Linked DNA regions of Homo sapiens. The protein of the gene in region 3 interacts with the protein of the main gene of each other region in a biochemical or structural test. Each region holds a gene or a part of one and is shown on either strand. Other genes may lie near its edges.

The links.
Region 1: the proteins of CALB1 (region 3) and RANBP9 form a complex in vitro, tested with the Homo sapiens proteins (one study listed by BioGRID).
Region 2: the proteins of CALB1 (region 3) and CACNA1D form a complex in vitro, tested with the Homo sapiens proteins (one study listed by BioGRID).
Region 4: the proteins of CALB1 (region 3) and IMPA1 interact in a test that uses a peptide from one of them, tested with the Homo sapiens proteins (one study listed by BioGRID).

The regions. Positions count from the first base shown.
Region 1 is NC_000006.12:13,638,530-13,646,293, forward strand, and holds part of RANBP9 (ran-binding protein 9), read right to left. Parts: intron 6,201-7,764; coding exon 6,016-6,200; intron 4,063-6,015; coding exon 3,950-4,062; intron 2,779-3,949; coding exon 2,670-2,778; intron 1,225-2,669; coding exon 1,034-1,224; intron 1-1,033. UniProt on the Homo sapiens protein: May act as scaffolding protein, and as adapter protein to couple membrane receptors to intracellular signaling pathways. Acts as a mediator of cell spreading and actin cytoskeleton rearrangement.
Region 2 is NC_000003.12:53,489,506-53,498,169, reverse strand, and holds the start of CACNA1D (voltage-dependent L-type calcium channel subunit alpha-1D), read right to left. Parts: upstream 3,560-8,664; 5' UTR 3,004-3,559; coding exon 2,937-3,003; intron 2,356-2,936; exon of another isoform or gene 2,341-2,355; coding exon of another isoform or gene 2,163-2,340; intron 1,019-2,162; coding exon 709-1,018; intron 1-708. UniProt on the Homo sapiens protein: Voltage-sensitive calcium channels (VSCC) mediate the entry of calcium ions into excitable cells and are also involved in a variety of calcium-dependent processes, including muscle contraction, hormone or neurotransmitter release, gene expression, cell motility, cell division and cell death.
Region 3 is NC_000008.11:90,065,436-90,073,199, forward strand, and holds part of CALB1 (calbindin), read right to left. Parts: intron 3,803-7,764; coding exon 3,719-3,802; intron 3,620-3,718; coding exon 3,563-3,619; intron 848-3,562; exon of another isoform or gene 604-847; intron 541-603; coding exon 463-540; intron 1-462. UniProt on the Homo sapiens protein: Buffers cytosolic calcium. May stimulate a membrane Ca(2+)-ATPase and a 3',5'-cyclic nucleotide phosphodiesterase.
Region 4 is NC_000008.11:81,668,999-81,676,762, forward strand, and holds part of IMPA1 (inositol monophosphatase 1), read right to left. Parts: intron 7,282-7,764; coding exon 7,236-7,281; intron 4,952-7,235; coding exon 4,843-4,951; intron 2,050-4,842; coding exon 1,941-2,049; intron 1-1,940. UniProt on the Homo sapiens protein: Phosphatase involved in the dephosphorylation of myo-inositol monophosphates to generate myo-inositol. Is also able to dephosphorylate scyllo-inositol-phosphate, myo-inositol 1,4-diphosphate, scyllo-inositol-1,3-diphosphate and scyllo-inositol-1,4-diphosphate.

The DNA.
Region 1 (7,764 bases), on a different chromosome or scaffold from region 3:
GCATCAGAAATAAATCTGTGGCTGGGCACGGTAGCTCACACCTGTAAGCCCAGCACTTTGGGAGGCTGAGGCAGGAGCAGTGCTTGAGGCCAGGAGTTTGAGACCAGCATCAGAAACATTGCGAGACTCCAACTCTTTAAAAAGAAACAAAAACAAAACCAAAAAAACCTGTAGAAGTGATGTCACAAAAGCCAAGAAAGGAGAGAATTTTAATTAAGAGAAAGCCCAAAGTCACAGAGAGTAAGACTGGTGAGCCAACAAACGGATGGGAGAAAACGAACTAGGCAGAGCTGACTTTTGCAAGAGGCTTGGTTGGGAAAGGTTGGGGGTGGGGGGAGAGGAGGGAGGCAGCGGCAGCCCAGCTAGATGTGGTAACCAGTGGCATAAGGTATCACAGCCACATCACCTTTAAATTTATATTTTATTAAAACACACAATTACCTTTTCACTATTAAAAATCAATAATTTAATTCTGGTGACTACTCATTGTGAATGCTGACTTTCATTTAGGAAGGTCTGCTAATAACCTATTCTCAGACAGCTGTTCTTCAAGTGACTTCCTGGTACTGAGAACATGTCAATCTGAACCTACAATTTTTCACCCAGAAAAATCTTAAGTATACACATTTGAAAACAGCTACAAAGGAAATATACAGATTTTCTGAGACAAATGGAGTGTCCCTCTGTCACCCAGGCTGGAGTGCAGTGACGTGATCTCAGCTCACTGCAACCTCTGCCTCCAGGATTCAAGCAATTCTCCTGCCTCAGCCTCCCGAGTAGCTGGGACTACAGGCACCTGCCACCATGCCCAGCTGATTTTTGTATTTTTAGTAGAGATGGGGTTATCACCATGTTGGCCAGGCTGGTCTCGAACTCCTGACCTCGTGATCCGCCCACCCTGGCCTCCCAAAGTGCTGGGATTACAAGCGTGAGCCACCGTGCCCAGCTGGAAATATACAGATTTTCAAAAGGAAAAAGGTTTAAGATTATAAAGAGGAAAAATCTAAAAATAATGTCATAAGTTAAATCTCACCTGAAAAATGTGCGGTGCTTCCTTTGCCTGATGCTAAATTGTGGATATTCATTCCATGGCTGGGGCTCATACTTGGACTACTAAAAGGTCGAGGACTAACAGGATAACTGTCTTGAGACTTTGGACTTCGGCCTCCCAAACATCGTACTTCACTATCTGTACCATTCACCATTTCTATAAACTGACGCACTCTAAAGGAGAAAAGAAAAATTTACTTAGACACAATCTTCAAATGGCCTTTTATTTAATAGCAACAGATTTCTAAAAATATTTTTAAAACTTTGATTTATCAGTAGGATTGGTCTTTAGTAAGCTAAAAATATTAAATATGGTGTCCTATGCTTTAATGCTTAGAATTTTAGAATTTCCAGAAAAATGAGAGTACAATGTAATAGACACTATAATAATATTACCCCCTTTAATCAGGATTTACCAAATGGAAATTTACCTATAAGAAGATATGAACCCCATTTTTTTGGCTACAAGTAATTTAATCAAAATAACATTTGCGCTTGGTAGCAAATCAAATTGTGCCTAAGGACATGATTTTATGTATATGAGATACATATAAAGCGTAGCCTTTCTCCCCACCCGTCCCATTCCCAACCTCTTAACCAAAATGGGCCTCATTTAAAATTCTTATTCTAAAGCAAAACAATTCTGTCATTTGACTTACAAAGGATATCTGTTGCTTAACAAGTTGAAATCTGAAGCTCAGTAACATCTCATTTTTTAAGTAACAAAGATTCATAAAACCAATTAAAATTGTCAAATCAGGATGGCTATTATTAAAAAAAAATAGTTAAACATAGAATTACCATATGATCCAGAAAGTTCACTTCTGGGTATATAACCAAAAAAATCTAATGCAGGGACTCAGATATTTGTACACCTATGTTCACAGCAGAATTATTCATAACAGCCAAGAGGTAGAAGCAAACTTTAAGTGTCCATCAGTGGATGAATGGATAAACAAAATGCAGTATTATCCAAACAATGGAGTAAAATTCAGCCTTTAAAAGGAAGAAAATTCTGATACATACTACAATAAAGATGAACCTTAAGGCTATTACACTAAAATAAGCCAGTAATGAAGAATAAATACTCTGATTCTACTTATATGGGTAGTCAAATTCATAGAGGCAAAATGTAGAATGGTGGTTTCCAGGGGCTAGGGGGATGAATGGATGGTTAGTGTTTAATAGAGAGTTTCAGTTTGGGAAGATGGAGAAGTTCTGGAGTCGGATGGTGGTGATGGTTGCACAATGATGTGAATGTAAAAAATGGTAAATTTTATGTATATTTTACCACAATTTTTTAAAATGCCAGAGAGATTAAATGTAAGGTACTTCTGAGAAGGAAAAATAGACACCCATCTTCTAAATAAGATTTTCACATTTTTAAACACATAAATAGAATAATAAAAGCAAATACATAGCAAAAGACACCTTCTGCTTATGGTCCTTAACACAAAAGTATTTTTCATAACATGTTGCTTAAATGACATTACAAAATTGTATATACTTGAAAAACGAAAAAAACTAAAATTACAAAAGCACGAAAATGTCTTTTATTACATAACTTGACAAATATTTATAATATATAACAAATATAGCATTTTATTATGCAAACTCACTTTAATGTGAAAAGGAGATTAGGATTTCTTTCAAGTAAACTTGGGTATAACTGTTGTGTTGTTTCAATGGCTTCTCCCATTCTTCCTGCTAATACCAATTTCTGAATTCCTATTCAGTAAAAGAAAGCAAACGATTAACTTTTACAAAAGTAGATAAAACATAAACTTAGTGACCTCAGAAAAGAAAGTTAGTAAGAAATCTTTAAATAAATTATGATTAATTTCAATTTCTTTCTCTAACATCATAGTTTCCATTAGGCAATCCAGGAAACATTTCAGACATACTAGAAAATTAGAAAAACAAGTACGGTCACAAATTTTTTTTTTAAAATCACGAACATACGAGTAATATAGTTAAAATACCTATTATGCAATATTGAAGTTTCAAACACTGAGATTAAAAAGACTGTTTTAAAGGGATACTAAAATGCCTTATCAAACATAATCTTCTGAACAAAGGACTGAAAAATGCTAGCTTTTGACTAAGATTCCAATTTAACAGAGACTCGTTGAGCATTCACTTGATCTGTTATATGTTAAATTAGATGATAAGGATACAAAATGAGTAAGTGATCTCTGTTCAACAGAGCTTATTAAAATAGTAGAAAAGGACAGCACACAATTAACTACAACCCAATGTAATCAGTGCTATTACAGCAATTTGACCTATGAAATAGTTGTTTTCACCCATTAATTTCACCCATCTATTTTGTTTTCATCTCTATACTCTTGTCAAGTCATACCCACCCTGATGGACAAACAGCACCAATTTTAGGATGGCTAACTATGGACCAGTTATGCTGACTTGCCATTGTTATACAGGACCTGTTTTATCTCTGGCCACAGAGGCCAGCACTAGGATCTAAATAATAAATACTTATGGATCAATACTGTATTAGCCATTTAAATTCAAAGATATTTACATTTCTTTCACATACTATCTCCTCCAACTAATCAGGACTACTTTATTATTATTTTTAAATCTTTTTATTAAATGTTTATTTCCTGAAAGCTTAAGAAAACATTTAAGAAAAAAATGGTAAAGACATTCCTTCAAAAAACTTCTGTAAAATCTCTCTAGAATTAGAATTCTGACATAGTCCTATGTGAATTTTTAAACTGATCTTCAAAAATGTCAGTGAAAATAAAATTCAGAGGCATCCATTTTAAATTAATATATTTGAAATTTTTTTAATTAAAAAAACAAAATTTCTAAAAATTAAAGTAACCAAATCTATAATCTGAAAACAAATGTTAGCCATGCACCACAGTGTCCTTACTTTGTCTATTCTTAATGGAAGCTAATTCTTCTAGAACGGTCTGGTCTGTAGATCTGGCAAAGGCCTCTGCTGTGGCACAGTACCCATGGTGGACTAAATAAGATGAAACCATTCTTAAAATAAAAAGAAGAAACATACATCTTTTAGTGAAGAGAATACATGCTTCATACTACAATTTATATAAACAAAATCTATTCTGGTGTTATAAAAACGAACCTATTTCCTTGAAACAAGGCGTTAAGAACCTCACCTTTAAAGTAAGCTTTTGAAAAACATCATTTTGTTCTATTCATGTACTATTTTCGAAAAGATAACTGCAAATGCTATGTTGAGACTACTCTCCCTAAAATAAATATTACTTGAGAATCAAGGACATTAAATGACCTTTTCTTTGATTCTTGGACTCTCATTACCCCCAGGTCCCTTCCTATCTTATTATTCAGCCCTACTAACCATAATTTCTATTTTGACTTTATCATATGACTTATTCCAGTATTGCTGGCATTCTGTAAAATAACCAACTTTAAAATAAAAGATTAACTCTTAATGTTCCAGAGTTCAACCATCTTCTTTACACACCGGTTAAATGAAGTGGGATCACAAAGTATGTACAGAATACTAAGGTGAATCCAGAGAGACAATCTTCCAGAACATGTCTATAAGTGTACTACTAATTAAAGGAGGAATCAGCCTTCTAATCTAAATCAATTACTATGGTTTTACCCAAGAGATTTATCAAATATGGTTTACATGTAAGTGACACATTTCCAAGACAATAATCTTTTAAAAACGTACCAGGTAGTCAAAACATATACTTACATCTACCCACAAGATGTGGTTAGAAAAACTGGTGATGCAACAATATTAACCCAAATATCTGTTATCTCCAAACAGTCAATTTTTAAACTTGCCTCCACCTGACACTACTAAGGGCCAGTTAGAAAATCGTGGGAAGCAGTGGTTCACCACAGGAGGAGACTGAGGCAAAGAGCGGAGGGAGAAAAGGGAGGAAAATGTCTAAGAAACAGATCTGCATCTTATTTTACCCAATTGTTCAAATTAATTTAAGGGGGAGGGGACCTTTTAGAATGGACTTCTCAAGAGTTCATGGTGAACATCAAGTCAGTGAAGAAGTGGGTGGAAGGATCCTGGTTATAAGGTTAAGATAAATGTTTTCTACTATCTTGCCATGATACTCAGTGGTAACCATTTTCAGAGCATTAAAACAGTGTGGCCCCAGAACAACCCATTCTAGCTTCACTTCGTGGTGACTATAGGATTCTGCATCAGGGTTGTCTATTCTCAACTGGGCTGGACAAAAAAACTAGTGTCCAATCTCTGTAATACAGATGATAATAGCTCCAGGGACGAAGTGTGATTTCAGAGTCATCATCATGTCTCCCAATCACTTCCTTTTCTAAAAAATACCCCCAACATTTTATTACAATTTTAAAGTTAAGAATATTCAAAGCAATTATAAGGACATTAAAGATGAAATGTGTTGGACCAACTGTATCTGAAAGTCTGCTATTTTCTTGACCTGGATTATAATAGTGAAGAGGACTTTTTAAATTTAATGGTATTTATTTAAATTTTAAGTCCATACTTAACTACTGCTGATAGTTCAGATATTAAGAGCTTGGACATAGCCAAGTTCATGACCAAAAACCACAGATCCTGATTATAAGATCTAGATTATCTCTCAACTTTATCTTTTCCATTAACATTATTAAAAGTTAAATTGTATAACCTACAGAAATCATTAAATCCTATTACTAAGAATAGCAAATGAATTAACCTAGCCTAGGTGACCTAACATCATTTTATTTCCTTCATCAAATTAATTCAGACTGAAATACAATTCTGTACGTGTGTCAAACAATTGTTTTTAATTTGTTTAAATAGTGGAGTAAATTACTTTTCGTTGAGAGATTAAAATCAATAATATAATAGATATGTCAGTATATAAATTAGTGGATTAAAAAGCTTCTGTGGATACCAACAGAATAAATGTCTTATAAAAAACAGATTCTGAATAGCATCAATTGAAATTTCTTCACTCTTACTTTTGTATCATGGTCTGCCATTCTCCTTCTCGATCTCCGATAGGAAATCGATCTATCTGTGCCTGGATTTTGGTTCTCCACTCCCGCATATAGTCTTCTATATCAAACACGAAAGGATGTTGCCCAAAATTGGCATCGACCACTTCTCCTGGTGTTTGAAGCCCCACAGTAGGATACAAATTTGGCTGTAAGATAGCATATTTCATTAAACATCTATCCATTTTATGTTAGATTTAATAATTCTTTTAATGTTACATTTAAAAGAATAGAACTATAAATTTACTTCATATTTTAAAATCCCAATCAAAATATTAGAAGGCTAAAACAAATGATCTAAAATACATTATATGTTAGATGAAAAAATATCACTTCCTGCAATGTAATCATCAAGAAAAAACAAAGAGACCCAAGATCTCTGTTTTATTTATTCAGGGACTACGTTGTATTATACCACGTGGTATTATGCTACTAATATATGTGCATGTAATTCTTGTTCTAAGATTATGTCATATAGTAGTTACAGAAATTCAACTATAAACACATAACTCAGGTTTATCCCACATTTTATATATGATACATTTCTATAAACTGCATGTTAAAGCTAGTTATCATAAAAGTATGATCTCAGCTAGTCTGGCATTTAATAGCTTAAATTTACTGTTTTCATTCTGTATATTTGGGATGCCTAACTTTACAAAGGGAAGGGGATAAGACCATAACTATAAGCAAAACACAGTGCCAGGAAGAGTGGAGATTCTCTATATTAAAAAAAAAACACAAAACCTCAAATATATGTATTTCAAGGGAGGAAAAGGATGAATCTGAATATACCCAAACTCAGAAATGCATTCAGGTACACTCCATGGTTTCAAGGTTAATCAAGATGAAAAGGTGATAACTTCAAGTAAACAAAAAATACAGGGGTCATTCTTTTGGCTATGTCACTAATTGGTTGTTACATCTAAAGGCAGAATGAGTTTCTGAGTGGCTACTAAATGCCAGGGTTTAATCATAATTCTGTGAGGCCACTATTATTATTTCTACTTCAAAGACAGAGAAAATGAGGATTCAAGGTTAAATAACTTGCTCATGGTCGTTCTGCTAACAAATGGCAGAGATGGAATTGGAACACAAGTTTGTCTGATACCACATCCAAAACTGATTTTTCCTCTTGCAACTCCAAATCCTACCATATTTTCATTTTCTGTATTTATGTCTTATATCTTTAATAGTTATAACAAGTATTTTTCAGTACAAAACAAGGTAAAGATCAAGAGCGGATAATTTCTGTGTGAATATGTTAAATAGATTTCACAGTAAAATGCAAAGAGGGTGTGTTTAAAAACAACCGTTCAATCAAGCAGAACAAATCAGAAACAAAATATTACATCAAAATATCAAAAATATAAAGTACTACTGGATTATGGAAATAAATGGTTAAAGCAAAGTATGCAAATGTATTGATTCTTAATAATCAACAGAGCTAACAAGTTTATAAACTTTTAAGCCAAAAACAGGTGAGATAGTACAGCCTTCCCATTTCACCAATGAGAAAACTGAGACCTAAAGACTTTATAGAAACAGGCCAGGCATGGTGGCTCACGCCTGTAATCCCAGCACTTTGGGAGGCTGGGGCAGGTAGATCACCTCAGGTCAGGAGTACAAGACCAGCCTGACCAACATGGTGAAACCCCGCCTCTACTAAAAATACAAAATTAGCTGGGTGTGGTGGCGCATGCCTGTAATCCC
Region 2 (8,664 bases), on a different chromosome or scaffold from region 3:
GGAAGAGGCACACACGAGCCTCTCCCTTCACTGGCTCCCTCATGCTCACGTTCCAAATGCTTCTTTGGAACTTGTCAAAAGGAAATTCCAGGAAGTTATAGCACTGATCAGAGAAAAAAAATCAAAAGTAATCTCTCCCTAGGAAGCATGTGCTCATATCTGCAGCTACCTGAATAATTAGAATCACCAAATGTCAGACTAGAAGCAACCTTAGCATTAATTGTAGTTGCAGAAGCAAATTTCAAACATCAGAATGAGAAGATTCTACTAAAGGTCAAAAATGTATTCCCTTCAAACAGAGTCTTATACAGTCTTTTTTTCTAATCTGTATACCTTGTTTGCAATAGGTTCAATGCATGCTATTGCCCAAAGACAACACTGAATTTAAAACTAACCATCTAATGTCCAATAACCAAAGGTTGGTTTCACATTTTAATTATCTGCCCCTGTGAAGTTTCAGGCTGTCACTCCCTCCCCCTACTACTACTACTATACACACATCCAGACAGTGGGCTAAATATACCCGTACAGCCACCCCTCTGCAACCCGAAGAGACAGGAAGGTATATACAATGAAACCCCTTATATACAACTTCTGTTACTCGCATTCCAGACTGCTACAGCTTTGTGTCACTTCAGAAAGCAAATCCTTTTAAAAAACAGATGGTAAAAGAGAAAATGAGAAAGACTTCCCCCAAAAAAAGGATACTTCCATTCCACTATACTAATGCAGGCTCTTCGGATGGGGTTATTGAGTGATAAACAGAAAAGGGCGCGGGCAGGTCGGCTGTTGGACGAGTTACCCTGTTTTTTGCTCTTGGCGTATTGCTGACGTTTTCTTTGGGAGAGAGATCCTACAGGTGGGGGTGCAGAGGTGCTCATAGTTTGGGCAGCCTTGGCCTGTCTAGCAGCATCGATTGCAGCTTGCCAAGACAGGACAGTTTGCTTGGAGCTATTCGGCTGAGAAGTTGGTCCTTCACCAGAAAGAGGAAGTCTGGTGCCTCTTGCATAGTTTGCCTCTGGGGAGAAGGAGAAAAACAAAGATTTTTTTTTTTAAATGAGGATCCAGTGGGTAGGAGAAAAAAATCAAAGGTTGTCTCCCATCAATAACAGGGGAATCATTCACTCCTATGTTTCCATTTTGAATCTCATGTGCTATTTTTCACAAGCTGGGCTTTAGTCAGCTGGAGAGTCAAGAAAAGTCCACGAGCTCTGGTCTCAGTGTCAATCACACAGGATCACCGCTGCATCACACCCAGTGGGGTTAGTACTCCTTCACATCATGTCTTCACAAAGGGTCTTTTAGTGCATTTCTTCTGACAAAACTGAGGTCATTCCCACATTTACTCCGCATCTCTGATTTGTAAAACCCATCTATCTCTAATGAGTAACAGATACATACAACAGCTTTTCTCTAACATAACTACCACCATCACCAAGGGGAAAAAAAAAGGCAGTACCAATAATTCAATAGTCTTAATCATTTTCAGAGTGTTACTCCAACATCTTTCCACAGCCACAAATGCATTTTTTTCAGTACCGAAAAAAAATCTTCCATAGGCACCCAGGCAATACCAAAAACCCCATAACAAATATCTAGATTATGCACTGACACTTCCTGCAAATGAAAATTCATGATGCTTGGGACTCATTTCCTCCACAGGCTTCCGAAAACAGAAAACATCTTTAGGGCTTTTTTGCATTTTAAATTGCAGCAGCATCAGCCAAGCCAGCATCCAGAGAGACAGACAAGGCAGTCAGCCTGCACCCCTACACCTAGGATAGACTGACTGGATTATGCCAGGGGCCTCCAGGCCTAAGAGGGAATTATCTCCGTGTAGGTTGGTATCCAGGTGCACACAAGGCAGAAACTCAAGGAGGCTCCCTATGCGAAGCCCCCGCCAGCTTTGGGTCAGGCCATCTCCCAGGCAGATCTCCCAGGCACCTGCCGCCTTCCGCCACAGTCTCCTCACTGAAGCAGAAGTGAGAGAGGTGACAGCAAGGTAGAGAGATGGGCGTTTGCAAAGCCAATTATTGCTAAGTAAAGAGTCAAAGCAAGCACGGGTCTGAAAGCCTGAGAAGAGGGCAAAGCGGGCGAGCGGCGGGCAATCGGAGCGGGGACGAGTCGAGTCATGTCAAGCTTCTCCCTAGGGGAGCGCTCACCCGGAAAGGCTTCCAGCCGACAGGGGTTGGGGGGCACTGGCGGTCTCCAAAGGGGAGGGCTGGCCAGGAGCTGCTCCATCCTCCCTCGACCCAGCCCCGGCCGGCGTGGAAGCTGCACGTGGTGCCCGGGCCAGAGCTGGGGAGGGGAGCCCCACAGCGGCAGCGGCTCCCCGGGCATTGCTAGGTTACCGACGTGTGCACAGCCGGCGACGGGAGCGGGAACGCACGCTCCACCCGAACCCCTTTCCCCGATACCGAGGCCGGGCCTCCCCCGCGAGGGGATGGGTGTGCTTCACCCACCGGCGCGGAGGGCGAAACCGGGCAATCCTAGAATTTTCCGGATGCCACCAGGGACCTTCTTCCTAGTCAACGAGGGGGCGGGGGAGGAGTGGAAGGCGAGAAGAGGCTGGCAAGGGGGCTCCGGCTGAAGACTTGCGGCCCTCCTGCCATCGCTCGGGGGCGTTGAAGGAAAGTTGAGCCCGAGGACACTGAACCCGAATCACCCCGACTCGCCGCCCCTCCGGCTGCACCGCGCTCCACACACTCCACGGCCGCCCCCACCCCACAAATGCAGAATTAACTCTGACATTCAGGGCCTGGAGGGGAGCGCGGAGTGGCTGTCACGCATGTCCCCTCTCTGTGTAGACGACACCGAGCTGGCAGCACCCTCTCCAACCCCCTCAACCCATCCAGCGCCGCGGGGAAGGGGGAGGGGGCTGGAGGACCATGACAGGATCGGATTTGGCAGCGGGTGCCCGGGCTCTGGCTGCTCACCGTTCGCGTGGTCCGCTTGCTGCTGCCGTTGATGCTGCATTTTTTTCATCATCATCATCATCATCATCCACGAACATTTATTGAGCGACTACTGTGTGCAGGGCACTGTGCTGGGCGTTGAGGCGGGGGCGGAATGGGGAAGGGGATCACCAAGAGGTAGGAGCCGCGGTCCCTGCCCTTATTCTCGCTTCAGCAGGGGGGTGGGGAGGGACGGGGACAAATAACAGAAAATAAGGATAATTGATTTAAAAAAAAAACCGCTCGCCACCCAAGCTCTCTCTTTTTCAAAAATGGAGCAAAATAAACTTTTTAAAAAAATAAAATCCAATGTATATATTATCTTAATAATATATACATGTAATTTTTTGCTGCAAAGGAGAACTGGCTTGTCCCCTCCTCTAGCGGAGAGACGCCGCGGTGATGCCGGCCCGGCCGCCGGGGCCGCTCGGCGCTCCCCCCATGCCCGCCCGTCTGCCCGCCCGCCGCGGTGCCCGGTGCCCGCCGCCGCCGCCCGCGCCGCCGCTGGCTCGGGACCGCGGGCAGCCGGAGCTCACATCCGGGGACGGAGGCGCTCGCCCGCCCGCTCGCTCCGCGCCCGCCGCGCCGCGCCGCACGCCGGCTTCGCCCTGGCGACGCTGCGCGCCCGCCGCCGTCCCCCGCCCTCCGCCCGCCCCGAGCCGCCCACGGCCCGCGCCGCGCCGCGCCCCGGCGGGTCTGCAGCCCGGCGCGCGGTTCTGCCCGGCACCACTTGCGCGCTCGGGGTGGCCGTCGCGTGGGACTCGGGGTGCCGCCACCCCAGCCTGGCCCGGCTGACCTGCGGGCTCCAAAGGGTTAAGCGCGCTCCAGCGGCGGGCTGCCCGGTTAACCCCCTCCGCGCCGCACGGTGCGCTCTCCCCCCGGGACCCGGAGGAGGCAGGCGGCGCCAGTGTCTCCCGCGGCGCTGGGGTGCGGATGAACCGCTCCTCCCCGCGCATTTCTGGGCTGGGGGACAGCTCGGGCTCCCGCGCCGGCCCCGACTCCGCGCCGGCCTCCTCTGCGCACACCTGGAGGAGGCCCCGCCCCCTGGGAGCTCAGGTGCTAGCGGGCGGTAGCTGCTGCGGTCTCCGAGCTCATCCTCGTCAAGGCTCGGCCGGGCTCCCTGGCTGCTCCGGAGCGGGGCAGGCGCCCCCTGCTTTTCTCCGGCCCTTTCTGGAATCGGGGGGGTTGGGGTAGCCCGGGTCTGTAGAGAGCACTCACTACCCCAGGTAACTGCCTGCAGCTGGAACCGCGAATCCAGGGCGCCCCCCATCTTCTCCCCTGCCCTGCGCCTGGCCTGGCGTCGCGGAAGGCAACGGGGATGGGGGGCAATATCTCCCCCCACCCCACCCCGCCCCCACGTGTGTTTGGAGGCAGGTACAGGGAAGTCAAAGCCAAGGTCTTTCAAACCGCTCGTGTTGTTCAAGGAAATAGACGGTGCTGCTGAAACTGTTGCCTCCAGTCTGGGAGCTGAAGGGAGTAGTTTATTTTTTGATACCTTCGCTGGCTTGGATTTAGGGTGGGGGAGATTTGCAAACGGCAGCTCCTGTCTAAAGGGGAAAATACTTTATCTAGTGGATGACTGATATTTTTCATTTAGCTTTGTGCTGCCTGTTAGGAGAAGGGCGTCTGCTTTGTTACTTCACAGGATTCGATTTATTTGCTTTTGTTCCTATCTGCATGTTCCTACGGCGTTTTAGAACGTTTCAGAACAGTGACTTTAAAGCGAAAATAAAGTAAAAGCTCAGCGTGAATTAAGAAAAATAAGTGTTTATGGGAAGGTGCTCCTTACCCAAAGAGAACACACTAGTCATCCTCAATTGTTGGGGGGCACCTGGGCAGAGAGACTGGGGACCAGACAGAAGACTCTCCAGAGGCCTTCCTGAGGGGGTGTCTGGTCCGTGAGGATGAAAACAACCAGGCTCTTGTCCTTTTTTGTGCTTTGTTTTTGGAGACTGGAGAGGCGAGAAATCGCCCTACGGTCTAGTAACAATATAAAGCTGGCCTGGGCCACCTCTCCTATGGCTGCTTCTGATCCAAAATCTGAAGGGAATAGAAGACGGTTCCCTCCAAAGAAACTAGCCCATCCAAGGAGCATGTATGAAATTCACAAGTACACATGTCACTTTCAGAACTCCTGGTCTAAAGCCTTGCCTCTTGAGGCCTTTTCTACAAAATTCCCTGAGCAAGTTTGTTTTATGATACCTTTGCTGGCTCAGATTTGGAATGGGGGAGATTTGCAAACAGCAGCTCCTGTCTAGAGGGAAAAATACTGTATCTAGTGGATGACTGAGCCGAACCATATTTGCTCATTGTTCAGTTCAGTGCAGCCAGCATTCATAAGGCACCGGTTAAGAATAAGGGTCTGGTCTAGATGTCAGGACAAATCTATGGCACAGTTCCTTCCTCAAGGACAACCTAATGACAGAAGAAAAGTTTGTATACTTTTTTTTTTTTTGAGACGGAGTCTTGCTCACTCTGTTGTCCAGGCTGGAATGCAGTGATGCAGTTTCAGCTCACTGTAACCTCTGCCTGTTGAGTTCAAGAGAGATTCTCCTGCCTCAGCCTCCTGAATAGGTGGGACTACAGGCGCGCGCCACCACCCTCAGGTAATTTTTGTATTTTTAGTAGAGACGGGGTTTCACCGTGTTGGCCAGGCTGGTCTCAAACTCCTGACCTCAGGTGATACACCTGCCTCGGCCTCCCAAAGTGCTGGGATTACAGCCGTGAGCCACCGCGCGCCCGGCCGTGTATACTTCTTTCATACCATGCAAACATAGCAGCTATAACAAGTATGAAAAAGCGCTATACAAGCATCAGACAGATTAATTGTAACTGAGGGAACTGAGATGTTTTCACAGAAGAGAGGGCATTTGAACTGATTCTTAAAAACTGACCGGGAGAAAGAGGGATGAATAGGTGGCATACAGGGAATTCTAGGGCAGTGAAGCTATTCTTTATGATACTGCCATGATGGACGTAGGACATTATGCGTTTGTCAAAAACCCGTTGGACTGTACACCACAAAGCATAAACCCTAATGCAAACTATAGACTTTTGTTAATAGTAGTACCACAATATTGGTTCATCAATTATAACACTGGGGTGTACCAGTGTTATAACTGTGTATATAGTGTAGCTCACTAATGCAAGATGTTAATAGGAGAAACTGTTGGGGGAGAGAATATATGGGAATTCTGTCCTTGCTGCAAAATTTTTCTGTAAACCTAAAACTGCTCTTAAAAAAAATAAAGTCTATTAAAAACAGGTGACTACTTTTACAGGGCATAAATGATGTATGAGGAATGAGCTTTGGGGGTAAGAGCAAAGGCACAGGGGAGACTGAAGTGCAAGGTGGGTGTGTTTAAAAATGAGCAGGAGCACAGTGTGGCTGAGGCAAAGACCCCCTGGGCTAGAGGAGGAGGAGGCTGGAAAGGCCAACCCAAATCTGTGGAGGAAGGCTGGCTGGCTAAGAAGACCAGATTCAATTTCTTGGCAGTGAGAGCCAGTGAAGTTGTTTTAGCTCAAAAGTGACATGATTAAATTGTGGTTTCGGTCTCCAGGTTTTGTGCGTTAGATCTTAACAAGTTTATGGTATTGCAGGAGGGTTTGGGGTTTTTTTTTTAAATAATTATTTTTAGAAACAGGGTCTCACTATGTTGCCCAGATTGGAGTGCAGTGGTGTGATCATAGTTCACTGTAAGCTGCAAGCCCTGGCTTCAAGCAGTTCTGCCTCAGCCTCCCAGCGTGCTGGGATTACGGGCATGAGCCACTGCTCAGCCTTGAATTGGAGTTTTTGACATTCCATCCCAGTTTCTGAATGAGTCTCATCTTGGCGATGTCTCCAGCAAGCATTTTTTTTTTTTGAGGGCCTTGATTCAGCACAGCTCTAGATGCGTTGGCCCATTGGGTAATTTAAATATTTATATTCCCATGATAATGCAAACTACTGAATAAATAAATAATAAGATCTTTTAAAGGCTTCCTGTGTGCCAGGTTCTAGGGTAGGCACTTTATATGTACTAACTCATTTAATTCTCGTAACAAGCCTACGAGGTACTATAAAACCCTCATTTTGGCCAGGCTCAGTGGCTCATGCCTATAATCCCAGCACTTTGGAAGGCCAAGGCGGGCTTGAGTCCATGAATTTGAGACCAGCCTGGCCAACATGGTGAAACCCCATCTCTACTAAAATTACAAAAATTAGCTGGGGATGGTGGCGTGCGCCTTAAGTCCCAGCTACGTGGGTGGCTGAGGCAGAAGAATCACTTCAACCTGGGAGGTGGAGGTTGCAGTGAGCAGAGATTGTGCCACTGCACTCCAGCTTGGGCAACGGAGCAAAACTCTAAAAAAAAAAAAAAACAAAACTCATTTTACAGACAACAAAACCAAGACACTGAGGAGTTAAGTAGCTCGCCCAAAACCACACACAATTACTTAGTAGCTGAGCCAACAAGACATGAGGAAAGGCTAAAACAAAAGATTTCAGCTCTAAATCAGCTACATGTGCTACAACCCAATTATGTTGCTAACACACTATTGTGGGGTCTTAATCTCCATGACCTTATTTATAAAGCACTCCCACTTGAACGCACTGAGCTGGCATGCCAGACATGATTACCTGCGTGCACTGCATTTCAAAAAACCTTGCTGATGGCCCAGTCCAGAACCTCACCATCTCACACCCCAGGTCATGCACAAGATGCCCATTCTCCATTTTTCCTCCCACAAATAATCCATCTTGTTCAAAACACACCATGTCACTTCCCTGACCAAAAAATGTTTTCTTCCTCCTTCCTTCCACATTCAACCTAAACTCCTCTGACTAGCGTTCAACCTTATCATCTCGCACCATTCACTTTAAACTGTGGTCAGCAGTCTCATTAGACTGTGAACATGCTGTGCTCATTTCTGACTCTCTGCTTTGGCTCCTGTTTATTCGCTGACCAGGAATCCCTACCTTGTTGACTTGCTGACCTCTCACTAACCCCTCTCCATTGAAAAAGCCTCGGTCAAGTCTCTGCCTCCTCCAGAAGACTTCTCTGATTGCTACTGCTGCTATGGACACTCGTGTGCCCCCACCCCCACCTCCCCTTCCCTAAAGGCCTGCAGCACCTGGCTTCCCCTTTGATGACATACATTCTTGTGTCTTGTGTGATTGCTTCTTGGCTATAAATCCTGTCTCTCCAACCACCGTGTGGGTCCTTAAGCAAGGATCACCTCCTTAACCCCCTCTCCCTGCTGCTAAGTGTTATGCTCACAGCGGGCACTAAATACTCTGATTAGTCTGCACAGGATCATAAAAGCCCACATAGATCACCAGAAATTGTCAGCTGATATTTACAAAAATCCCATAAAGTTTATGGTAGCACACTTGGCCCTTAGATGGTAAAAATATAAAACAGAGGGAAAATTGGGTCCTTTGCACACCAGGAATTCTAATTAAGGAAGATAAACAGATCCTGAAGGCTATATGCAGAACATATCCTTAAACAAACTGTGTAGTTGGGTTTGAATGAGTTCCTCCATCCACAGGCCCTGGTGCTAAGAGGGGATAGCCCTGACCCACTAACCACCAGAACAGGCGGATTAAGCGGGTGGGGACATGTGTTCCAGGTAGAGGAATGAATGGGATGCACAAAGTCAGGCTGAGAAGTCCAGAGTACATGCAGAAATTAATAAGTAAATGGTTAGGCTGGGACCTAGGGGGACT
Region 3 (7,764 bases):
TTAATTAATAAAGTAGCTAGATGGTCTCTTTAAACTCAACAAAGTGTGATTTCCCAAACTATGATAAAAATGGATTTAGGAACTCTATAATAAGTGAGTTTTTGGTGATATAATTTATATATATATAGTGTACCTTATATATGTGTAAGTTATATAATTTAGTGATATAATTACACTGGCTTTGGAAGCAAAACAAGTCATCTTTTGATAGATAAAAATTACACAGCTCTACAAGGAAGAAAATGCTCATATGTTGAGTCTTAAAGCCAATGCCTGCAGAACTCAAAATGACAAGATGTAAGCATCCCTAAGTATTTCACTTTTCAAATGAAATGATACCTATGTGCATATGATGCCCACACCACCGTTTATTTATTTCATCCTGTGTAGCCTTGGGAGTTAGCAAGAACATCATACTACTTCATGAGCTCTTGGGTACAATCTTTTCAAGATCAGTCTTACCATTAGGTCTGTATACTCGGCTAATTTTGTGTCATCAACAGTCTTGTTTGCTTTTTCTAGCAGGTCCTTTAGAAAGTTCTGTTAAAACAAAGAACACTTAGATTAATTTCATTAATAATATATCGTCTACTTTCATTTCAGAATGCCTTGGAACAGGACATACCAGGAATGCAAAGAAAGTCTCCTTTTGAGGGGTAGAAGCAGGTGAGTAGAGGAACTTATAATAGAAGAAAGACTAAACCAGGTTGTCCTCCTGGCATTCCAGCAATGAAACTACCTTTGACAGGAATAATACCTGCTTTTTACTGAGACTTGATTGATCATTGTCTGTGCATTACCATGACTTTATGATTTCAATTAACCTGAATAAAACCTTTTAAAACCAGCCAGCCCAATGGATGCATTTCTTCTTACTGATATCTTCACAAGTACTCATTGGATTGTTCTGCAAGAAACACAAGGGCCTTTATACCTTTGGAATATTGTGAAAAAATATCAGTAAACCAAATAGAGATCTATCCCTAATTTCAAATCCATTTTCTGCTCCCCAGGCTGTATTTACACATTAGTTTATAGCCAGCATGATGCTTATTTCTCCAGAGGGCCAGTTGGGTAGTTTTTAGCCTAATGCAGTCCAAAGCACTTTGGTTAAAATGCTTCCACTGACTATTTAAATTAACAAAATTGGCCACAGTTGATGTCATTGAATCTTTGAAAGATATATGAATCATATTAAAATAGAGATTAATGTGGGAAGGATGAAAAAAAGATGATTATTAACTTGACACCTGGAGCTTAGGAATGAATTTAAGTTTTTTTAACAGAAACATAAATAAAAGCTTTACAAAGATTTGCCATATAAGTGACAGTGTAAGCACTTTATAATAGTCATTCATTTTGTTTAGTGCTATTCATTCGTAACTCCTTTATTTTCTCAGAAAATGAATTAATGCAATTAGGAAAAACTAGGCAGATACTGTGCCCAGATATTATTGAAGGATTAGATTTCTTTGATTTAGCAATGACTTATCTCTCTCCTAAATGTTCCAGTTCTGGGCTGATTTGATGCCACTTTTTTAAAGGAAAGAGACTCTTTTCTTAGTTTGATAAAAATTTTTTACTTCAAATATTCCACTTCAAATCCAAAGTGAAGCATGGAAAATTCAAAGTTATCTGTTGGGGTTGAATTTTATTTTTGAGCCTTCTGGGGCTTTTGTCAGAGATTAATTGGGTTAAAAAGCCTCATCAGAGACTAAAATGGTGGTCACAAAAATAGCCTCGGAGAAACCTTGGGACGCAGAGATTCAAAGTCGTGTCTGAGAGCAAGTGATGTTTTACTCTATTATGGATCTTAAAATTAGCTTTCTTGAAAGATCCATTAAAAAAGAATGCCAACTTATCTTCAAAATTCCCCAGGGAAGAGGACTTCTATTTAGAATCTCTTTCTGAGAATAAAATTTAGAACAAAGAAGGAGGCTTTTAGAATATTTAGAGGTCAGTATTGGAAATGAGCTAAGGTTTTCATTATGAACTAAAAAGGATCTTTAAAAGAATATTTTTGGTCTAACTAATAAAATAAAAACACAGTGGCTTAACTGTCACCTTGTGGATTGCTGAGCTGCAAGTTTGTAAAATACACTGTTTTCAGTGACTTCACATTAAAAACGTTTACATTTTCAAGAGGATAAAATTGAGTATGTTTTAGCCATTTTGCCATGGCCCAAATGTCCCCGTTCCATCTTTAAAATTGTATGCTACTCAAACTATGTTGAATTATGACTAGAACTGTTGATATTCATATTTCCCCACATAGCAAAAGAGCAGCTCTTAATAAATGAAGTCTGAAAGCATGTAGTGCTGTGGGGGTGGGGTGGGGAATCATTCTTAGCATTATCAGATATTCTAGGTACAAATCCAGGTTCTCTTCCTAGGCAGCTGTGTAATCTTGAAAAATCATCAAATCTCTCTGCATTCCAATCTCACTGTTTTTATATTAGGAGTGATAATACCTGCCTTGCATATTTTCTGTGAGGATTAAATTTTAAAATACACTTCAAGCACCTTGTACTCTGCCTGACAGATAGTCAGTAAATATTAACTCACTTATATTTTAGTCACTCTATGTTCTAAAAATAGAAAAAGTAGGGTCTTTCAGATGGCGATGTTTTGGGGTCGGCTTGAGGAAATGAGAAGAATACTTCCATATTCCTGAAAGGCTAGTAAATTGAGTTCATGAATAATATAATTTATTTTATGTTGCATGTCACAAAAGCTTTCATGTGCAGAATCTTACTGGAGCTTCACAATAAGCCTGAGAGGAAGGATTTATTACACTCATTTTAAAGATTAAAGAAAATTGGAAAGATATAGTAATTAATGAGTTAAGACTTGATTTCAGATCTCTGCCTTTTCCTTTATATCCTCCTCTGTGATATCCGAAGTGATAAATTCATTCTCTAAGTTGCAGTTTTTCAAAAGTTTAATTTTAGAAGATTTTTTATTTTTTATCATCATTGCTGAGAGTCAGTAGGTTGTGTAGAATGTCTACAGGCCTTGGAGGCAGACAAGCCTGGATTTGCACATCAAGGCTCTGTCCGATTTCTGTGTGGCCTTCAGTATATCATTTAACTTCTCTCAACTCTTCCTCAATGGGGTAATACAATGTCATACAACTTACGCAAAGATTAAATAAGGCATTATGTGTAAAGTAGTTGGCATACAGTAGCTATTCAGTAACTTTTTCTTCTTTCTTTTGTAAGAAAATTTATATATATATGTGTTTATTTTGAGAACTAAAACTACAAATTTCAATAAAAGAATGGCTTATTCGGCTTATCTATAATTCTATCTGTCTGTCTGTCTTATATTTGTGTACACCACAAAAAATGTTAATTTTTTGCATTACTGTACAGAATTTCCAGAAGCAATTGAAGATGCTTTTTTGATCTGGTACTTCATTAACAATGTCGAAGAGTAGGTGAAAATGTGACACTGTTCAACATTAGTTTCTTTTGTGGGAGGTTTTTTAAAAAGCTAGGAAACTCTTAGTTCATAATTGCATCTGAAAGGAAAAACTTAGTACAAGTTTTTATTTGCTTACCTTAAGCTCCTCAGTTTCTATGAAGCCACTGTGGTCAGTATCATATTTTCTCCATGTCTGTAAGTAATTTTGGATAAGGAAAACAAACACATTTTTAATAAAAGGAACAATTTTCCTACTTTAAGCAGCTTTCTTAAAGGGGCAGCTTTCTTATACCTTCATGAATTCCTCACAGGACTTCAGCTGCTGGCATCGGAAGAGCAGCAGGAAATTCTCTTCTGTGGGTAATACGTGAGCCAACTGGAAAAGATTTAAGAAGAGAGAAACGTGTTGTAAGTTGCTCAAAAACAAGTCTCTGCCATTACCTGCTGCTTAGTTTTTCTTCAACGTGTTCCCTCACAGGCTAGAAAAGTAGGAGAGGAAAAACATTAGAGTCGGCTTTCCCTTTCTGGTACTTTCCTATGGAGCGCTGTCGATTCTCCAACGCTCGTGTGCCCTTGTGTGCTTGGTTCTTTGGCCAGTGAGGTGGCCGCAGCAGACCTGTGCTCAGGTAGAACTAGCGTGGCCACTTCTTGTCTGCTGGACATTCAGGCAGATTCATCCTCGTGGCTTGAACCCTTCAAGTGTTCTATGCCACAGATTAGTGTTCTATGCCTCTCTCCTCTCTCCTCACAGGGTCACAGAAAGGCACATGTGGGGGCCATAAATTTCATGTGAAGTGAAAGAAACCATGAGGAACATAAATGTTGGGGAGGGGAGTGAAGGGGGAAAATGTATTCCCAAGCCCGAGGAGAAAGCCTACCATGAGATACAAGAGAAGATAAACCAAAGACAATCGTAAGGCAATGGAAAAGAAATTCACCATGAATGGTGGGGCGTTAAACAGGAATAGGAAAAGCCAGTTCTCAAATTGTTGCTTTCTGCTGAAAGGACATCCACTGCTTGAATCCAGGGCTGGGGTTTATTTTCTGATCTCCACGGCATGCCTCTATGACATTTTCCCTTAGATCTCATTTCAAAACTTCAATCCTCCTCTCTTTTTTTTTTTTTTGGAAGAAAAAAGGATTCCATATCCCATTTTATGACTAATCTATTGCGTACAGAGAAGGAAGGAGCTGGATTGATGGCTCCACTACAGATGTGAGATCTATTTCTGGCACAGTAGCTAATTAGCTGTGGTCCCCAGCAACCCCGAGCCATTTCTGGACTTCAGTACCCTCATCACTAAAACAAGGACTTGAAATAGAAGCCAGTGTTTCTTGAATATATTGGGTTCAAAACGCCTTCTGTTGGAAGCACTGCATTTTCACCATTAAATAATGAATCTACACACACTATATTTCATCTAATTTCCAGGATTTGATGAATTCCCTAGATCACGGGCATGGACGGACCCTCATCCGTGGATTTTAGGCCAACAGCCTGTAGTCTAGATCAGCCTTAAAGTCAGAGTCAGTTCTAAAAGTTCTACCAAGTTATAGAAAATACTATCATAACTTTTTTTAAAAAATTCATCCTTTTAGGTTCATTTAAAAATTTAATATTTAATATAAAATGCACTATTCTACTTTATATGCAAGGAATCTAATTTTTCTTATGCCTGTGTATGCCCTTTAGCTTATCTTATGTTTAGATTTTTGAAATAATATTTCAAATTAAAACCACTCGATTTATACGCACCACACATGTGGGTGAGACTAAGGGAAAGGGCCAAACCTTATGTCAACATGTTTAATATGACCTAGTTATAAAACATTTTCTTATTTATTTTTAAAGAAAGGTCACTAGTGTGGGTAGATGATAATATATCTAAAAAGTAAAAATGGGGGTTTATAATGTGCCAGTGCTTTTAAAAAAATGTAATTAGCTTTTGGTACATAAACACATTTGCATCATTGCAGTGTGTGTGTGTGTGTGTGTGTGTGTGTGTGTGTGTGTGTGTGTGTTATCCAGGTCCCTTATTAAACTCAGGACATACTTCTGTGACCTTTGCATTCTTTCAATTCCTTTGAATACTTGAATCATAAAATTCTATACCTCAGAAATAACATAATTTAATTTAATTCAAGACCAAATTTTTCAATTGAGGATGCTAAGGCCCAAAGAGGTTGAATGATGACCTGATGATTGGCAGACTGAAAATCACTTTAATTTGGTGATTATTAGTAGATTAAGTCAACAACATGCTTGTTGAAGACAGTAATAGAGTGGTTTGGTTGCTTCTTTGCTCTTGGACTGCAAATAATGAATTTGTTGGTGATTTTTACACGTGACAATGAGATAGTTTAAATATGATAAGCTGTTTCTACTCATTGAAATCTAGAACACCATTTTCCTTATAAAAATCCCTTTTTTTTCCTCATCTGTAAGTGGGCTCCTAGTGGAAAGTAGCTATAAATGATTTTCATTATAAAGTATCCAGATATCTGGTAAGTTAGGCCTAGAATGTAGGTCTCCCCCCAGAGCTAAGGGGGAAGAGGAGAAGGGAGGGAGAATGGCAGTGGGTGGGCTCGGCATGGAGAGGGGCTCTGGAGGACGGAGAGCCACACCCCTCCAGTCTTGTTGAGCCTGGCCTCTTCTATAATAATACTTTCCTGGAGGGATTCTGAAGAATATCTCCTTGAGGATTTTAAAGAAGATGGGAAGAGAAGAAAAAGTAACACAAGAAAGAAGAGGGAACAAAGATGGAAGACAATAAAACACATCAAAGAGAAGAAAATATATCAGAGGCAGACATTTTGAGGGAAAGATTGAACAATGGAAATGGATGTTATGTATACATTTTGGAGGGTTCTGCATGATATAGAAGGTCTAGCCACATTTTATTATGTTTTTTTCATGAATATAAGTGTTCATTTAGGAAACAGGAAATAGCTAACCCCAACTCGTCCTTTATTTATTAGTATGCAACTTGTTAGATACTTCTTACAATTTTTGCGTGACCTTCCTCTAGACCATTAATTTCAAGAGGGCAGGGAATAATACTTTTCTGCATCCCCTGAATGCCCAGCATGGTATCTAGCATGTTATATGCCTGAAATAAATGCTTGCGGATTGGTTGGTAATTTTACTTTATTAAAAACATCTACTTAAAAGAATTGAGTTATTTTTTGCTTATCTTCATCATAATTCTCTATTTTGTTTGGATTTTTATAATTAGTGTGTGTTGCTTTGAACAAAAAAGAATAATTTTTCTTTAAATATTTTACATCTCCAAATTCACTGAATACATAAAAACAGAAAAAAACAAATGAATGAACTAGTAAGCAATCACTAAATGTAAAATTAGGGAAATTGCCATCTTTGTTTCAACATAAAAGTTCATGTAACTCACATAAAGTTGAGAGGTCTCCTGAATGTCAGATACAGAGATAGTAAAAATGCTCTTCATGTCTACTATAAATGTGTATTTCTTGCCCATACTGCTTTGGTTTTATACTTAAATTATTAAAAAATACAGATTACATCAATGTGCAACATATTCAATCTGTTTTAATTTCACTGAACCATTAATGTTACACTCAACATGATACCATCCTATTTTATAAATGTTAGAAAGGAGTCTTAAGCATATAAAAATTATTATGTGTATATAGGATGTGGCTATAGTGAATGTAAAGAAATCTTTCTTAAGATATGTTTCACAATGTGGTGGTCCTGTGTTGTCTCTCGGTTCTTCTCTCAATGCGTATGAATCAATATTCAAGTTTCAGAGCTGGGCACAGTAATTCTCCAGCTGTAGCCTTTATGACTATGTCTATAATGTGCCAAAGGTCTTTCATATAGGAGGTGTTAAGTAGAGTTGCTTTATTCTCAGATATGCTAAGTCACTGCTGTTTATAGAAGTATCCAATACTTCTTATTACAATATTATTGGTGATTCTGTAATCTTTGGGCTGCCTGCCTGCTCTTTTATGAACTCCCAAAACTTTTTTATGAGTTGGAAAAGAGAGTGAAGAATATCAAGGGGATGAGTGGAAGGCAGGTAGCTAAGGAAATAAGTAGAATCCCTCAGAGCTTCATTTCTGAGAACTGATTGCTTGTTATCAAGAGTAGGAAAAAAAACCAACAACTTCCTACTTGCTTGTCTCCCCTACTAGTCTACGTGCTCCTTGAGGATGGGGTCTGTGTCTTATTTACTGTTTTGTGGCCCAGAAACTGCACAAATTTTAGTAAATATTTTATTGAAGCAATATATAAAGGTAATTAACTATTTGTTTAGCATCAGGATAGGCTGTAAATAAATGGAGGTAAAGTTCCTT
Region 4 (7,764 bases), 8.4 Mb from region 3:
AGCAGTATGATACTAATTCTGCAAGCTTGCATAAAGGAAGAGCTGTAGAGGCTTTCCAGCCTCCACTTGGCCTCAAAGATTGTCCTCAGAAGCCTGGGAGCCAGGGAACAGACTTGTCTCAAGGGCAGAGCCACAGTGGAACTGTGGGGTTAGTGGTAGCTGAGAATCTCCACCAAGGTAAAGCCTAGTAGAGCCCAGGAAGTAAGGCCACCACAGAGAGTCCCCACTAGGGTAATGCCTAACTAGTGGAGCCATGAAAGCAGGACCACTACCTGGGCCTCAGAACTGTGGAGTCACCAGCAGCATGCAAGGTACACCTTGGAAAGCTTCAGGCACTGGACTCCAACCCATGCCAGTAGCCATATGGGCTGTACCCTGCAAAGCCACAGGGGCAGGGCTGCCAGAGGCCTTTACCCAGCCCTCAACCCCCAGTGTCTCCATGAGGTGGTACATGCAGTCAAAAGTGATTATTCTTGAGCTTTAAGATTTCATGTCTGCCCTGCTGGAATTCTGGACTTGCCTAGCGCCTGTTCTTTCTTTTTGCCTAATTTTCCGTTTTGGAATGGGAATGCCTGTCTTATGCCTGTGTCACTATTGTATCTTTGAAGCAGATAGCTTGTTTTGATTTCACAGGCTCACAAATGAGACTGTGGACTTTAAACTTTTAAGTTCATGATAGAACAAGTGAAGACTTTGGGACCCTGGGGATGGAATGAGTGTATTTGTATGGAAAAAGACAAATCTGGGGAGTGTCAGGGGTGGAATGCTGTGGTTTGAATGTTTGTTCCCTCCAAAACTCATATGGAAACTTAATCTCCAATCTAGCAGTACTGAAAGGTGGGGTCTCTAAGAGGGCTATGCCCTCATGAATGGATTAATCCACTCATGGGTTAATAGATTAATGAGTCATCATAGGACTAGGACTGGTGGCTTTATAAAGAGAAGAACAGAGACCTGAGCTAGCATGCTCAGCCCCACCATGTCACATTCTGTGCTGCCTCAGGACTCTACAAAGAATCCAGCAAGAAGGCCCTCATCAGATGCAGCTCCTCAGCCTTGGGCTTCTGAGCCTCTATAACTGAAAGAAATAAATTCCTTTTCTTTATACATACACATTACCAAGTTTCAGGTATTATAAGCAACAGAAAATGGACTAAGACAGACTCTCCTTGTGAAAATTTAAGAATATAACTCTCAGTAAAAGAGGAAATACAAGCAAATTACAGAATTTATGAAAAAAATAATGAAAACAGTAAGTATCAGTATTTATGGGATACAATGAAAACAATGATCAGATGAAATTCATAGCCTAAATATCTACATCAATAAACATAAAGGAATTATAATAAATTTTCTAATCAAAAAGGAAAAAAAAGGAAACAAACCAAAAGAAAGCACGAAGATGAAAATAATAGTGCAGAAAAGAAAAAACCAGCTTAAATTAAAATCCTGGTTCTTTGAGAAAAAAGAACAAGAAAAAAAGCACAAATAGACAAAATAAGTGACAAGGTGGAAATAACCACTGATATAGAGAAGCCAGAAATTAATTATAAGAGTCTATCTTACAGACTTCTATGCAAATAATTTGAAAACTTAAAGGAAGTAATTTCATAGGCTGTGGAAATGTTCCAGATCAAAGAAGGCTAAGGAGACATGACACCTAAAAATAATGCTGACTCTAGACTGAATCCTACTTTATTGGAAGGCAAATGCTATAAAGGACATTAGCAGATTAACTGACAAAACTGAATATGGATGACAAATTAGATAAAAAGTGTATTTATGAAATCAGTGGTTTCATGGTTATGGAACAGAATCTCCCTATTCTTTAGAAACCATGATGTATATAATTTACTCTAAAATGGTACAGGAAAAAAAAAAGGTGTGTGCACACACACACGTATACAAAGAGAGAGATAGAATAATGGTAAAGAGCTTACCCATGAACAGGAATGCAAAAAAGCTTTTCCATATTAGAAAGAACCATTCTCACAGTCTCTGGTGTTCTGGAAGAGCCCAACTCAGTCACCAAGAGAGATTTGGTAATATCTAAAAAGAAAGTGTTAGGTTTCAATATTTAGACTTCTAGAAAATACCTGACACTTGTAATTCAGAAGAGGGCATTTGTATCCCTCTTCCTTGTTTTATCGTGTTTCTTTATAAGCATTTAAATAATAAAATACTGATAAATTAATTATCCCTATGTGATCCTTTTTATAAGCATCAGAGTCCAGCTGCTTAGGCCCTTCCTGAAAAAGTACATAATGTAACCAATTTGCCTGCATACATAATACTTAGTGGGAAACAGCAAATGTCTTAAATATTTAAAAAGGAGAGACTAAATTCAATAAGGGATTTATGTATAGATTTGGAAGAAAACAAATTACAGTAAAATTACAGTAAAAGTAAAAATTTTACTTTTACAACAAAAGTAAAATTCTCTGACATCCATTTACAAGGCTGACAGGTTATCCAAGGTTTTCCATTTGAAGCTCAGGACACACCCAACACCCTAGATCTCACCTCCTCCCACCAATGGAGATGTATGTTCACCAGCTGTGTTTGATCTGAGCATTTCTGTAACTGTTGTACTACATTTAATAGTTACGTAATTTAGGGCTGGGCATGGTGGCTCACACCTGTAATCCCAGCACTTTGGGAGGCGGAGGCAGGCAGATCACGAGGTCAGGAGTTCGAGACCAGCCTGGCCAACATGGTGAAACCCCATCTCTACTAAAAATACAAAAAATTAGTTGGGCATGGTGGTGCGCACCTGTAATCCCAGCTACTCCGGAGGCTGAGGCAGGAGAATAGCTTAAACCCGGGAGGCGGAGGTTGCAGTGATCCGAGATCACGCCACTGCACTCCAGCCTGGGCAACAGAGCAAGACTCTGTCTCGGGAGGAAAAAAAATAAAAGTTACATAATTTAATACTTTGTAAAGTGAAGAATGACTATGCAAAGGAAAAGAGTTGTTTCTATCAAAGCTACCATATTCCTTCGGTCCAAGATTTGTATTTTCTCACATGATGACATCTAGAAAAATAAGAATGCATCCTCCATTTCATGGGGTCTTAGATTTTAATGAAAAGGAAATAGCCTAAAAATCTGCTCTTAAATTAAGTGTTTGAGGGAAAAAGGTATAAAAGTCTAGAAAGATTCTAAACTCAAATTGTTTTGCAAGTACCTCTAAGTTCTTGCTGCACTGAAAAGAATTTCAATGTGCAAACTGTGGAAAATGTTTGGTGTGGTTTATGGAAGAACAGTAACTCAAAACCTCAATAAGCTGTGAGAAAGAAAAAGAAAAGTTTTAATCTGCAGAATGCCAGTACCTTTAAATTATCAAGCCTGAAGAGGCATTTAAAATATACCAGCAGACAGTCTCACTCCCCTGGAGTTAAATAATTGCCACTTGAAGCCGCTTGCTACAGGGGGCTCTAGACTCACTGATGCCAAGCAGCCATAAAATGCCATGCACCCTATAATTCAACAGTGTATAGCCAATCACTAAGCAATGTTATTTCTGTAAACAAATGAGAATTCCTGAGTACAACTTTTCTCATCATCCCCTCTCCCAGTGTGTCCCTTTTTCTTTAAAAACCTGAGCCTCTGCTAAGTTCTCTGGAGCACTCTCCAAGGTAATCTAGAAGTGTGTCCTGGGCTGCAGTCCTCAACTTTGGCCCAAATAAACTCTCTACATTAATTTTGCCTGCACTTCCTTTTTTGAGGCCAACAGATGTAATAGAGAAGAAAGAACTTAAATTGCCATTCAGCTTATAAAATATATATGTCTCATTTTCAGTGATTCCCAGCTTTAACGGGCTTTTTTTCCACCCATTTACTTTGTAGTAATTGGTCCTGGGGCATCAGATCAGAGGAATTCTATAAAGAATTTTAGAAGCAGTAGATAAAACATAAACCATGAATTCCACAAGGACAGTGTGAAAGGAAAATAAATCTGAGGACCCAAAAAACACTAAGCCAAGGGAAAAGTCAAGCTGGGAACTATGTCAGGCAAACCTGCCTCCCATTTAATTCCTAAATAAGACACCTACAAAGACAAAAGAGCTACATACCTCCCTTACAATTTGCCCACAAGGAAATTCCTTGTGGACCTCAAGATCTTTACCCTAAAACAGTTCTGGCTGAATTTTGCCCTGGCAATGTAGACTGATAGCTTATCTTCACAGGTGTGGGAGAGAAAGTCATCCCTCTGCTCGCCTGAGACAAATTCATATCTGATTGCTTCATCTGCCCTATTGTTTATGTAAAAATGCAGATTCACTGAGCCAGACTCAATTGTGTATTTAAAGGCTGATTACGGACTTAAAAGAATATAATCATTTGTCTTTTATCTACCTATAACCTGAACACCGCCCCCTTCCCCACTTCTAGTTGTCCTGCCTTTATGTACATCTTACACATATTGATGTTTCACGACTCCCTAAAATGTATAAAAGGAAGCCGTACCCCAACCACCTCGGGCACATGTCGTCAGGACCTCCTGAGGCTGTGTCACCTTAACTCCTTAACTTCGGCAAAATAAACTTCTAAACTGATTGAGACCTGTCTCAGATATTTTGGGTTCACAATAGGAAGCCAGTCTTAATCATCTTCCTATCTCTATCACAAAATACAATGCTGAGCCTGAAGTGTTTGCTCAATTACATTTCTTTCCCTACTTCCATTCCACATTCAAAGCTGAAGTCAAAAAGAATAAAGAGATAATAAACACAATTTATGAATCAGTTAACACCTGGAGAATTCCATAGGTGAATATTAAAAAACAATAAAATATTGAGCACACAATATGAATAGCATCAAAAATTGGAATTAATCCTACCTTCTTGTTGTGAAACTTGTAGTTTTTGACCATTACAAAAGGCACCTTTTCCTTTTCTGGCAGTGTACATCTTGCCTTCCACACAACTGTACACAACTCCAAATTCTATCTGCAGAGGAAAACAAGTTTCCTTTACCAAACCTAAGTATGTTTCATCCACTTTTTTCTAAGAAAATAACAAGACAATCTGGTATACTGACTAGTAACAATGGACTGAAATGGCTAAACTGTGGGATACTTAAAATGTTAATTTCCAGACTAATCAAGAGAAAGAGGTCACCAGAACTGATATCCTTGACTCTCCTCCCATCCAAGTCCAGATCTAAGAACACCCACCTTACTTCTCTTCCTCCTGCTTCGGAAGACAGGGCTTTCCTATTTTCTAAGTGAACGCTTCTCCGGTGTTAGGACTCCTACCCTCACATACATTCTCTGAAAAACTGCTCCATCAGCTGATTCCCTAGTCTCTTGGATTTTTCTTCTTATACCTTCTCATTAAGTTTCTCTCCTCCTTACAAAACCTTTGAAATGTTATTCTATCCTTTTCCCTTCACTGCCAATGAGTAACTTTGCATCTCCTATTCTCCTCTTAATACATTACAATGTGGCTTCTGCCCTGATCACTCATTCTTCTGAAAGTCCCACAAAGAGAGTATCAACAAACTTTCTTTGTTGCCTCAAATGCCTTGTCTGAAGAATTGGAGTCTACTGGCTCAAGACTTATTCAATACTTAATTCACTACCTCCATGCTCCCACCATTATTCTCTTAGTTCTACCTCACCTACTAATTCGTTTCAGTTATGATTTTAGAACATTCTTTTCTGCCTCACCCTGAAAAGTTAGGCACCTCAGGCTTTTTTCTTCCTTCTCCCATTGCTTCCATTTCCCTTTTAGCTCTCCATATTCACACAGGTTGGTTTTTTACAGTCCACAAATTCATTTTGGCTCCCATCAACCTCATAATCGGGGGAAGAACCTACGGTTCCAAACCTAGTCTTGCAGAATTTCAAAGACAAAATCATTCATTGCCTGATCACCTCCCATTCCTTCCCCATAAATCTCCTTCAAATTTAATCTCAAAAACACTTTCCAATTTTGGCATTTCCTTGGCTATTCTCACTGCCTCTACTTAGTTCACCCACACCCCAGTATAATCTCTACATTGCTAGAATTATCTGTCACTTTCCACTTCAAAACCTCTACTGGTTCCCAACTACCTTGAAACACAAACTAAATTTTCTTGCATGGACTGGCCACAGTGCCTCACAGCAAGGCCAAACTAACCTTTGTCCTGGCCACTTGCAGTGCTTCCCTCTCCATGAACATCTCACCATTCCCCACACGTATAATGGTCTTCAATTTCTCCAAGCTGTTCTTTCTGATTAAAACGCCTTCCTCTTCCCACCACCCCCCCACCCCCGCCAATCTGGAAACCCCTAGTTTTCTAAGGGCCAACACATGATCAACTTCTAAGACCCCTGCTGTTATGAAGATTTTCCCAACCCACTCTCAGCAGAACTGGTGACATCCTGTGTTCCCATAGTATTTTTTTTCATGGTTCTACCACATATCATCTTTACCTGTTCACACATCTAACTTTGTGCTGAGCTGTTGAGTTCAGTGGCAGGGCCAGCATACAGCCCAGAGCTGATTATATACTGAAAGCTCATGTAGCTTCTTCTGGACATTCTCATTAATTAATACAACCCTGGGGCTAAGCTGTCATTTGTCCAATATGTGTTTTATATTCAGAAATGTTATAACTGCTGTTATACATGTTGATCTTACATATCAAAAGTTCCTTGAAGATAGGTAGGTAAAATGTTAGTAACCATCCTTTACTGTTTGACCAACTAAGGAGCCAAACAGCAAGGAAATGCTATAGCTATATGTTTTATTCTGCTAGGCTTTAGATGTAAGTATTTACACATAAGACAACCTGAACTATGTGTAGGTTCCTAAAGAGAGTCTGTATTTTCCAACCATGCTTTGGCCCCTGCTACTTGCTGGTTTCTAAATGTATTTCTTCACTAACACCTACTAAAGCATTCCCAGCTCAAATCTCACCTCTTCCACGAAGCATTTAAGATCACATATAAACTTCTATCCCATCTGACTCTATCACACATATAATGGTTACTAAATACTGAGTTGTATTTCAGTTACTTGTGTGTATTTTCTTCTTACAACTCCTGCTTCTCAGAATACATAAAATTTTATCCAATGCAAATGTATCATGAAAATTTTAACAGTCCTGTAGCTTATATTCAAAATAATGCAGTTATATAATCAAATATACAGACAAACCTGAATTTATTATGAAAACACATTTACTTTTTCTCAGAAAATGAGAGCAAGGCATATAATCAACTATACGTTTAAAAAATCATACCTTTTTATTTACAGCAAAGCCAATTGAAACAGCTACAAAAGGAAATCTTTTTTTAAAAAAAAGGACAAAATACAAATTAACCAACATAGAACTTTTGTTAATAAAATTAATCTTTTCATAATATAAGTGTTCTTAAAATTTTTCCTATAAAAAGTCTCATCTCCACTCCCCACAAAATCTAAGATGCAAAACAGTTTGTATGGTATACAACCCTTTGTAAATAGGATAAAGTGGAGGTATTATACACACACACCCTCCCCCCAACACACAGGCACACGTTCACACAGGATGCTTCTATAGGCATGAAACATCTCTGAAAGGATTCACGAGAAACTTGTAACAGTGGTCATCTCCAGAGATGGATCCTGGGAAACCAGAAATGGAAGTGTGAAGGGCATTTTGCACTGCGTTTTCTATCTTTTGAAGGTCAAATTCTATGAATATAGTAGCTATGTAAAAATATTTTTTCATGGCCACGCACAGCGGCTCACTCCTCCCAGCACTAATTTAGCAGGCCAAAGCAGGAAGA